Regions from separate parts of the Homo sapiens genome. Here region 2 is linked to region 1. The links come from fine-mapping of genetic effects on plasma protein levels. Region 1 holds a variant in brackets. A gene starts in the other region. All regions are shown on their forward strands. Region 1 overlaps HGFAC (HGF activator). Region 2 holds the start of PGLYRP2 (peptidoglycan recognition protein 2).

What was found. PIP is the chance, under the fine-mapping model, that this variant and not a neighbour inherited with it causes the effect. The UK Biobank Pharma Proteomics Project read protein levels with antibody pairs (Olink). The fine-mapping took linkage between variants from a reference panel, not from the people measured, so its PIPs are less certain.
Region 2: it holds the start of PGLYRP2, and the variant in region 1 is fine-mapped to the plasma level of the PGLYRP2 protein (UK Biobank, PIP 0.94).

Annotation. Positions count from the first base shown.
Region 1 is chr4:3,443,502-3,448,863 of GRCh38, forward strand. HGFAC (HGF activator) reads left to right here. Exons shown (of 14, transcript NM_001528.4): 5 at 538-660; 6 at 810-941; 7 at 1,122-1,232; 8 at 1,318-1,492; 9 at 1,764-1,849; 10 at 2,541-2,793; 11 at 3,991-4,130; 12 at 4,394-4,534; 13 at 4,627-4,775. Among named protein-coding and RNA genes, the nearest start is that of HGFAC, 4.2 kb to the left of the region's middle. RefSeq lists a silencer at 1-46. The variant C/T (reference allele first, on the strand shown) is at 1,928.
Region 2 is chr19:15,477,190-15,482,551 of GRCh38, forward strand. It overlaps PGLYRP2 (peptidoglycan recognition protein 2), which reads right to left and starts at 2,312. Exons shown (of 5, transcript NM_052890.4): 1 at 2,122-2,312. The coding sequence starts at 2,182.

The DNA.
Region 1 (5,362 bases):
CCGGGCAGGGGTCCTGGCTGGAGGGGAGCAGAAGAGGAGCTCTGGGATTAACCCCGGTGGGTGCCACTTAGGGCCAGAGCCTCTCCCAGGTGGGACCTGCGTCTCATGGTGGCTGCGCGGCCATCGCTGGGGCCAAGGCGCCGCCTGGTGGTGAGGCCGGGCCCTGCAGCCACACAGGCGTGCCCCAGGCAGGGGACAGGTGGGCAGGGTCTGTGGGGTGCGGTGCCAGCCGCCCTGCTCACATGGGTCCTGGGACACATGGGAGGGGTCTGCTGCCTGACAGTGTGGGTGTCAGGCTTCCAGGAAGCCACGTGCACAGCTGGGCCAGTGGCCCAGGTGTTGAGTGGGGGACGCTGGGAGGAAGGGGAGGTCTGTGCCCCTCCCAGGGACCTTGCACCCCGAGGGGCGTAGAGAGGGCCCCTTTGCTCTCAGAGCCCCTCACTGGGGCCTGATGGACGCCTTAGCAAGCAGAGAATGTCACAGAGGGACCCTGAGCCTCCCAGTCCGCCCCTCACACCCCCTCCCGCATGTCCCCAGCTGCCCTGGATCCCTGTGCCTCCGGCCCCTGCCTCAATGGAGGCTCCTGCTCCAATACCCAGGACCCCCAGTCCTATCACTGCAGCTGCCCCCGGGCCTTCACCGGCAAGGACTGCGGCACAGGTGAGCTGGGCCTCGGAGGTCCGCAGGGGTCCAGGGGCCGGAGCAAGTCCCCGGAGGATGGGAGAACAGGTGGCTCCCGAGTGCAGGGCAGGGGCCCTGCACGGGGACAGCAGGTGGCAGGGTGTGAGGGCTTACTGTGCACCCCTCAGAGAAATGCTTTGATGAGACCCGCTACGAGTACCTGGAGGGGGGCGACCGCTGGGCCCGCGTGCGCCAGGGCCACGTGGAACAGTGCGAGTGCTTCGGGGGCCGGACCTGGTGCGAAGGCACCCGACATACAGGTGCGCCACGGGGTGTGAGCCGTGCCACTGACCCCTGACGGGTGTCCCTGTCCACACCCGAGTGGGAGGAATGGCCTGAGGTCACCCAGAAACAAGGGACAAGGGGTGGACCCCGGCCCCGACTCCGCTGTCGTGGGGCACTGCGCGGCCCCTGGCCCAGCTCCTCGGCCCTGCCCCCAGCTTGTCTGAGCAGCCCTTGCCTGAACGGGGGCACCTGCCACCTGATCGTGGCCACCGGGACCACCGTGTGTGCCTGCCCACCAGGCTTCGCTGGACGGCTCTGCAACATCGGTGAGTGGGTCAGCCCCCCGGGGTGCCCTGGGGCAGTGCCGGGTGGACCCACCGTGGGCCGGCCTCACTGCCCCTCTGCCCGCAGAGCCTGATGAGCGCTGCTTCTTGGGGAACGGCACTGGGTACCGTGGCGTGGCCAGCACCTCAGCCTCGGGCCTCAGCTGCCTGGCCTGGAACTCCGATCTGCTCTACCAGGAGCTGCACGTGGACTCCGTGGGCGCCGCGGCCCTGCTGGGCCTGGGCCCCCATGCCTACTGCCGGTCAGCACCACGCCGCTCCAGGCCGCCGCATGCGGGGCAGGCAGGATTTGTCCTGGGGAGAGGCCCCCCGGCTCCCTAGGACCCAGGCGGGGCCAGCTCCGTCCAGACAGGCCCCGGAACCTCTGCCTGGGAGGCTGCCCGAGGGAGGGCCACTCTCTTCCCACTGCTCCAGGTGCGGGGAACCGCCCTGCTGGGGGTTCCGATGCCCCCTCCCCATGCCCTCTTCGAGGGGCAGTGTGACTCCCTGCCAGCCCCCACTTATGCACCGCAGGAATCCGGACAATGACGAGAGGCCCTGGTGCTACGTGGTGAAGGACAGCGCGCTCTCCTGGGAGTACTGCCGCCTGGAGGCCTGCGGTGCGCGGCTGGCGGGGGGTGCTGCCTTGGGCCCCACCGAGGTCACAGCAGTTTTCCCCGTGATCCTCCTAGCCCCTC[C/T]GCACACCTGGCTACTGCATCTCTGACAAATGGGGAAACTGGAGCTCACGGGATCAGGCTGGTCCAAGGTCACGCAGTGGGTCGGTACTGGGGTCACAGTGGGGAAGCAGCCCGCTGCAGGGGGCTGGTCACCAGGCGACGGCCTCGGGGTGGCACCTGCCCAGCCTGGACCATGCCCAGGATGGCCGCAGAAGCCTTTCAGGGAGGTGCAGGGAGGGCAGCGTGCAGGCCCCCCAGAGGCCACCTGCTTCCTGCCCTGGGGAGAGGCCCCCCGGCTCCCTAGGACCCCGGCGGGGCCAGCCCGGGGCTCTCATGTGGGGGTCTCTGACTGTGCTGGGGCTGGCTGTGGGGTTCCGGGCTGCTGAGGGGGCCACAAAGGCCTCCGTGTGTCCAGCCCCTCTGGCCCTCACAGAGCCTCGGGATCGGGCATCAAACCCCATTCTACAGATTTGGAAACTGAGGGCAGAGGTGAGTGGGCGCCAGGGCCTGAGCAGCGTGGACAGGGGGTCCGGCCATGGCCCTCTGCAGCGCCTCCTGCCGGGTAGGGCCTGTGTGTGGAAGGGGGCTGGCCCTGTGAACCCCAGGGGTGTGACCCGGTGACCTTTGCTCCCAGAATCCCTCACCAGAGTCCAACTGTCACCGGATCTCCTGGCGACCCTGCCTGAGCCAGCCTCCCCGGGGCGCCAGGCCTGCGGCAGGAGGCACAAGAAGAGGACGTTCCTGCGGCCACGTATCATCGGCGGCTCCTCCTCGCTGCCCGGCTCGCACCCCTGGCTGGCCGCCATCTACATCGGGGACAGCTTCTGCGCCGGGAGCCTGGTCCACACCTGCTGGGTGGTGTCGGCCGCCCACTGCTTCTCCCACAGGTGCACCTCCTCTGGGCCCCAGTCACCTGCCCTGAGGCCCCACACACCATCCAGCGTCACTATGCGCCTGTCCCCACCCGCTTGCGGACCCCATCCCGGTGCCTCTGCTGACCCCTTCCCGGGGTCCCCGGTAACCCTCTCTGACCCCTCTGGGTCTTGGGGCTCAGTCCTGAGCTGGGCATGCATGGACACTCCAGAAACCCTGTCCCTATTGAGGGAGGCCAGGGGTCAGTGGCATTTCCACAGAGGACCCAGCGCCTGCGGAGAGTGCAGTGGGCCAGGTCCTGTCCTCCCCGCAGGCCCCGCCCCTCCCAGAGTCCTGGCTCTCAGTAGGGAGCCAGGGAGCGCAGTGACAATGCGTCAGAGCCCTAGGAGCCCAAGCACAGCCAGGGAAACTGAGGCCCAGCCCACTCAGCCGGCTCCCCTCAGTGGGGGCGCACAGCCACCCAGGCCCACACTCTGGGAGGCGGGCCTCGAGTGGGGAGACCCTGAGACGGAGCAGCCTGGGCCAGACGCCCTTCCACCTTCGATGGGCACCCCAGTGATTAGGGGCAGGGGTCCGGCCAGCCGAGGGTCTGGCGGCCTTTCGAGGACCACAGCTCCCAGGGTGGGGTCCTGCGTGGCCCTGCAGAACCTGCAGCCGGCGGCTCCTGGGCCTGCAAATGGGGCCAGAGCCTTCCTCAGTGTGGAGAAATGGGGTTCCCCACATGGAGCCCAGGGCAGGAGGCCGAGGCAGGGTGGAGCGACCTCCACACAGCAGATGGGAGCCAGGCTCAGGGGCCCAGGCTCTGTGCCCAGCAGGAGTGAGGGCTGCATCTGGGGACCCCACAATGTGGATGGAAGCTGGGGCAGGGCCTGAGCAGGCCAGGTCTCCACCCACTCGGGTCGGCCTTGCAGCCGATCCTGCCTGGGCTTGGCCTGAGACTCCCCCCAGGGCTTGTGACCAGTGTTGTCAGGAGGGATGGCACCGCACTTCAGCTCCCATGCCTGGATCTGGGGGTGACTGGCAATAGCCCCTGCTTGGTGGTCCCTGTCTCCCCAGTATCAACAGCCCACACCCAGGCACCTGCTCAGACCCCTCCCCGGGACCAGGGTCCCACACCATTGGCCTCCGTGGGCCTGACAGGGGGTGGGGAGAGGTGAGCCCGGTGGCTGGGGGAGGGCTGGTCCATGCAGCCTCCAGCCCCCCTTGCACAGCCCCCCCAGGGACAGCGTCTCCGTGGTGCTGGGCCAGCACTTCTTCAACCGCACGACGGACGTGACGCAGACCTTCGGCATCGAGAAGTACATCCCGTACACCCTGTACTCGGTGTTCAACCCCAGCGACCACGACCTCGGTGAGCTCCGGCGTGTCGTGGCTGCACTCTGGGCAGGTGGGCCCTGTGCTCCCCAGGCCAGGCCCAGACAGGGGCAGGAGCTGGGCAGACATGTGGTGCGGGGGAAGCTGGGGGCAGGGCAGGGAGGACAGGGCACCGCTCCCTTCTGGATCTCCCAGGCTGCCCTGTGGACCCCACTGGCTACCCTCCCTCCACCACGGGCCCCGACAGCCTCCCGTTCAGCCCGCACACCACAGGCTGACCCTGGCCACTCTTCTGATCAGTCCTGATCCGGCTGAAGAAGAAAGGGGACCGCTGTGCCACACGCTCGCAGTTCGTGCAGCCCATCTGCCTGCCCGAGCCCGGCAGCACCTTCCCCGCAGGACACAAGTGCCAGATTGCGGGCTGGGGCCACTTGGATGAGAGTGAGTTGGGAGGGGGGCGCCCAGCGCCCCGCCAGGGTGGACAGTGGCCAGCCACAGTGTGGGTGTCACGCTGAGGGCATTGTGTCCCACAGACGTGAGCGGCTACTCCAGCTCCCTGCGGGAGGCCCTGGTCCCCCTGGTCGCCGACCACAAGTGCAGCAGCCCTGAGGTCTACGGCGCCGACATCAGCCCCAACATGCTCTGTGCCGGCTACTTCGACTGCAAGTCCGACGCCTGCCAGGTGAGCTGGTGCCCGCCCCACCAGGACCCGACTGGTGGGGGCTCAGCTGGTCCTGAGTCTCCGAGATGCTTGCCCCTGGGGAGCCCAGAGCCTGGCGGCACCCCAACCTGGCAGGGCCAGCCAGGGACCCCTGGGCAGGGAGCACACTTACTGTCGGTGGCCAGCACCCCAGGGCCACCCAGAGCCCTGCCGGAAGGGCATCCTCCTCACACAGAAGGGGAGACCCAGGCTCTGAGAGGGGCCTGGGGTCCCACAGAGCCCGGACAGTTCCTGGCTGTCCAGCCCAAGGCAGTGCTTTCCGTGTGACACTAGGCACCAAAGGCCCCTTTGCCCCGAGTTCTCTCAAGCCAGCTCTTCAACCTTCAATAAGTTCTTCAACCTTCAATAAGCCCAACAGCCCAACCACGTCCTGGGCTCTGCAGGCCTGTGTGCTCAGGCGGCACGGCAACCCTGGCATGCGACGGCTCTCTTATGCCCCATTTTATAGCTGGGGAGACTGAGCCCCAGGCAGTCAATTCACTCTTCCAAGGCCACAAAGCCCAGGAGTGGTAGAGTGGGTAGGGCTTGTCACTGGACCTCGATAAGGG
Region 2 (5,362 bases), not on the chromosome of region 1:
CAAGGCCAGCCTGGCCAACACCGTGAAACCCCATCTCTAATAAAAATACAAAAATTAGCCAGGCATGGTGGTGTGTGCCTGTAATCCCAGCTACTTGGGAGGCTGAGACGGGAGAATCACTTGAACATGGGAGGTGGAGGTTGCAGTGAGCCGAGATTGCGCCACTGCACTCCAGCCTGGGTGACAGAGTGAGACTTTGTCTCAAAAAAAAAAAAAAAAAAAAAAATGCCAGACGCAGTGGCTCACGCCTGTAATCCCAGCACTTTAGGAGGCAGAGGCGGGTGGATCACCTGAGGTCGGGAGCTCAGGACCAGCCGGATCAACATGGCGAGACTCCGTCACTACTAAAAATACAAAAATTAGCTGGGCATGGTGGCACACACCTGTAACCCCAGCTACTCAGGAGGCTGAGGCAGGAGAACTGCTTGAACCCAGGAGGTGGAGGTTGCAGTGAGCCAAGAACCCCCCACTGCATTCCAGCCTGGGTGACAGAGTGAGACTCCATCATAAAATAAAATAAATAAAATAAAATTAAATTAAAATAAAATAAAATAAAATAAAATAGCCTGGGAGGCAGGGGGAAGAGCAGGATGGGCTTGTGCCATGTTGGGGAAATGTCAGTGGCTGAACTGCAAACCTAGAAATGCTAAGTTAGGCTCAGAGCTGGTTCAGAGATGGGTTATCAAATAATAGCTAACTTTCAGTAAACATTTACTATGTGCTAGCTACTAGTCTAGGTGACTTATATATTAATAATTTAACGCAGTTAGTCTTCACAACTCTTGTGAGGTAGGTCCTTTTAGCCCCTGTCTTAGTACATTGGTGCTGCTATAACAGATCTCTGAGGTTGGGTAATTTATGAAAAACAGAAATTTGGCCAGGTGTGCTGGCACATGCCTGTAATCCCAGCACTTTGGGAGGCCGAGGCAGGCGGATCACTTGAGGTCAGGAGTTTGAGACCAGCCTGGCCAACATGGTGAAACCCCGTTTCTACTAAAAATACAAAAGTTAGCCGGGTGCGGTGGCGGGCACCTGTAATCCCAGCTACTTGGGGGGCTGAGGCAGGAGGATCTGTTGAACCCGGGAGGTGGAGGTTGCAGTGAGCTGAGATCATGCTGCTGCACTCCAGCCTGGGCGACAGAGTCAGACTCTGTCTAAAAAACAAAAAAAAAGAACAGACATTTATTTCTCATAGTTCTAGAGGCTGGGAAGTCCAAGATCAAAGCACTGGCATTTGGGACTTCCTAGCCTGCAGAACTGCAAGAAAGTAAATTTCTCTTCTTTACAAATTTACTCAGTTTCAGGTACCCTGGCCTATATAGAAGCACAAAGGGACTAAGATGGTGTCCCTTTACAGATGAGGCATCTGAAGCACAGAGAGGTTAAGTTACCTGCCTAAGGTCACACAGGAAGGAAGTGGCAGAGGCAGGATTTGCCTTTGTTTTTTTTTTTTTTTTTTGAGACGGAGTCTTGCTCTATCATCCAGGCTGGAGTGCAGTAGTGCTCAGCTCACTGCAACCTCCTGAGTTCAAGCAATTTTCTGGCCTCAGCCTCCTGGGTAGCTGGGATTACAGGTGCCTGCCACCACGCCTGGCTAATTTTTGGTATTTTTAGTAGAGATGGGGTTTCACCATGTTGGCCAGGCTGGTCTCGATCTCCTGATCTCAAGTGATCTGCCCGCCTTGATCTCCCAAAGTGCTGGGATTACAGGCCTGGCCAGTAGTAGAATTTGAATCCAGGAAGTCTTACTCGACACACTCTCCTGGTCTAGAATCTAGGTTCTTCTCCAGTCCACCACCTAACCTGTGTAGCTTTGCTCTTCTCTGCAAAAAATGCCCTTTCTGGCTTCTCCCCCAAATCATTTCTCTTTCTTCCTAGCCTAGCTCTTATGTCTCCTCCTCCAAGAAGCCTTCCCTACTTTTGCTCTCCAGGCCCCAGATTCCTTCCCTTATCCTTGCCTTGACTCTGTGGAGCTGGGAATATCTATGTCCCCATGCTGGAGCTTCTTTGAGAGCTTGAGTCTCCAGCCTCACTCCATGCAGGGCAAGACATAGATGGGACAGCAGTACGCCTTCTGCAGAGCCAAGAGGTTTGGTCCCAGGACTCTGCCCCCTGACTCACCTGTCCCTGGGTCTGACCACAGTAGCAATCCGAGTAGGATCCAGAGGACACCCTGGGCCATTGTTGCAGGATTCCAGCTTCCAAGGGGTATTTCTGGTTGGCCTCGGCAGAGAACCTCGGCAGTGCTGGAGGGAGACAGGCACAGAGAACTGAGCAGAGCCTTTGACCACTGTCAAAGTCCAGCGGCGAATGACAGACCTGCCTCTCGTAGAGCTGTGGGCGGGAGGCAGCAGGGACATGGGGCAGCGTACCCTGGGTCAAGGTCATCTGGGCATCCTGGTCTCCCCCAGTCTCTTCTGTCCCTCCTAGGCTGAGGTCAGTGGTCAGTAAGCCAGGCCCATCCCCAGAGGGGCCTGGAGACCAGGTGGTTCAGACTCCATAAACTCTGCCCATTCTCCAGTGAGGTGGACCGAGGCAACCCCTCAAGTCCTGTCCCTCCCCATAGTGACGGCTCTGTAGCCGCTGCTGGCCACCAGAGGGGACTCTCAGCTGCCGCCTGCTGTACTGGTAAGACCGGCTGTGTTGAGGGAGAGGAGAGAAGCAGAGGCCTGAAGTTGGCACTGCCTTCTGCTTTTTTTTGCAACCAACACTTCAGGCTCAGGCACAGCATCGGTGCGGGGGCTGAGGACAGTGTTTGCTGAGGCCTGAAGTTGGCACTGCCTCCTGCTTTTTTTTGCAACCAACACTTCAGGCTCAGGCAGAGCATGGGTGCAGGGGCCGAGGACAGTGTTTGCTGAGGCCTGCTCTGAGCCCATGGGGACCAGGGGCTGTCACCTCTCATCCAGTTCCAGCCCTTGATTTCAAGCCACCAGCAGTAGCTGAGAGCAGGGGTTGAGCTTGAGTGTTCAGGACCCTGGCATTGTTCCAGGAGCTGGCTTCTGGACTCACCTGGGCTGACAGTGAAATGTCCTTCCTCTTCTCCGGGTGCCCATGACTGAGACCTGCAGAATGGACCCATCTCCCCTTTATTCTGGCATCAGATGGGGCAGGTTGACATGACTGGGCTGTTGTGTATGTAAATTGCTTCCCTGTGGGGCTCCCACCTCAAAACCAGCCCGGGGAGTTTCCAGGAGACCCACCAGCTGGAGACTCAGCCAGGGCAGGCCTGGGAATGTCCAGCCTGAGCCAGGCCTGGGATTCCCCTGGGGGCCACCCCTGGGGCCTCCTCAGGTGTCCTCTTTCTGGGGACCTCCCAGAAAAAAGCTGGGCACATAGTGGAAGCTCAGGATGTAGGGTGCTAAGTGATAGAGTGAATGGGGGACACTTCCCATGGGAGTAAGAGACAATGTCCTCCTCCAAGCTCGTTTCCCAGGATTTGGGGATAGGAGCTTTGCCTGGTAGAACCATATGAAGGTTGTGGGCTGAGGCAGGGACTAGGTTGAGGCATCCTCTTTGCCGCAAAATTTAAGGCAGTGTTGAAAATCTAAGTCATCAATAACTTTTTTTTTTTTTGAGACGGAGTCTCGCTCTGTCACCCAGGCTGGAGTGCAATGGCACGATCTCAGCTCACTACAACCTCCACCTCCCAGATTCAAGCAATTCTCCTGCCTCCCTGCCTCAGCCTACCAAGTAGCTCAGGTTACAGGCATGCGCCACCATGCCTGGCTAATTTTTGTATTTTTAGTAGAGACGGGGTTTTGCCACGTAGGCCAGGCTGGTCTTGAACCCCTGACTCAGGTGATCCACCCAACTTGGCCTACCAAATTGCTGGGATTACAAGCGTGAGCCACCATGCCCGGCCGATAAATAATTTTAAGACTTTTTTAGAACAGTTTTATTATTATTATTATTTTTAAAGATGGAGTCTTGATATGCTGGCCAGGTTGGTCTTAAACTCTTGGCCTCAAGCAATCCTCCTGCCTCGGCCTCCCGAAATGCTAGGATTACAGGCGTGAGCCACTGCACCCAGCTTTATTTTTTATTTTATTATTATTATTTTTTGAGGCAGGGTCTCCCTCTGTCACCCAGGCTGGAGTGTAGTGGTGCAATCTTGGCTTACTGCAGCCCTGCTTCCCAGGTTCAAGTGATTCTCCTGCCTCAGCCTCCCAAGGAGCTGAGATTACAGGTGCCCGTCCACCACTTCCAGTTAATTTTTGTATTTTTAGTAGAGACGGGATTTCAGCATGTTGGCCAGGCTGGTCTCAAACTCCCAACCTCGGGTGATCCACCTGTCTTGGCCTCTCAAAGTGCTGGGATTACAGGCTTTTTTTTTTTTTTTTTTTTTTTTTGAGACAGAGTCTCGCTCTGTTGCCTAGGCTGCAGTGTAGTGGCACAATCTTGGCTCACTGCAGCCTCTGCCTCCCAGGTTCAAGCTATTCTCCTGCCTCAGCCTCCCGAGTAGCTGGGATTACAGGTCCCCGTCACCACTCCCGGCTGATTTTTGTACTTTTAGTACAGATGTAGTTTCACCATGTTGGCCAGGCTGGTCTTGAACTCCTGACCTCAGGTGATCCACCCGCATCGGCCTCTATTTTTAATTTTTTATAGAGATGAGGGTCTCGCTATGTTGGCCAGGCTGGTCTCATCTCCTGGACTCAAGGGATCCTCCTGCCTTAGCTTCCCAAAGTGCTGGGATTACAGGCGTGAGCCACCATGCCTGGCCTAGAGCAGTTTTAGGTTCGTGACAAAATTGAGCAGAAGTTACAGAGAGTTCTACTCCCTGCCTTGACACATGCACAGACTCTCGTATTATCACTATCCAGCACCAGAATGGTATATCTGTTACAATCGATGAACCTTCACTGACACATCATTATCACCCAAAGTTCATCATTTCCATTAGGGTTTGCTCTTGGTGGTGTACATTCTATGGGTTTGGACAAATGTATAATGACATATGTCCACCACTAGAGTGTCATACGGAGTACAGTTGACCCTTGAACAACATGGGTTTGACCTGTGAGGGTCAACTTATATCTGGATTTGTTTCAATAAAAATTACATGGACTGTGCCTGCCTCTCCTCTCCCCTTCCTCCTCTTCCACCTCTGCCACCCCTGAGACAGCAAGACCCCTCCTCTTCCTCCTCCTCAGCCTACTCAACATGAAGACGGTGAGGATGAAGACCTTTATGATGATTCTCTACTTAATGAATAGTAAATATACTTCCTCTTCCATATTTTCTTCCTTCTCTTCCTTCTCCTTTCTTCCCTTCTCCTTCCTTCCTTCCTTCCCTCCCTCCCCCCTTCCTCCCTCCCTCCTTTCTTTCTTTTTTCTTTCTTTCTTTCTTCCTTTCTTTCTTT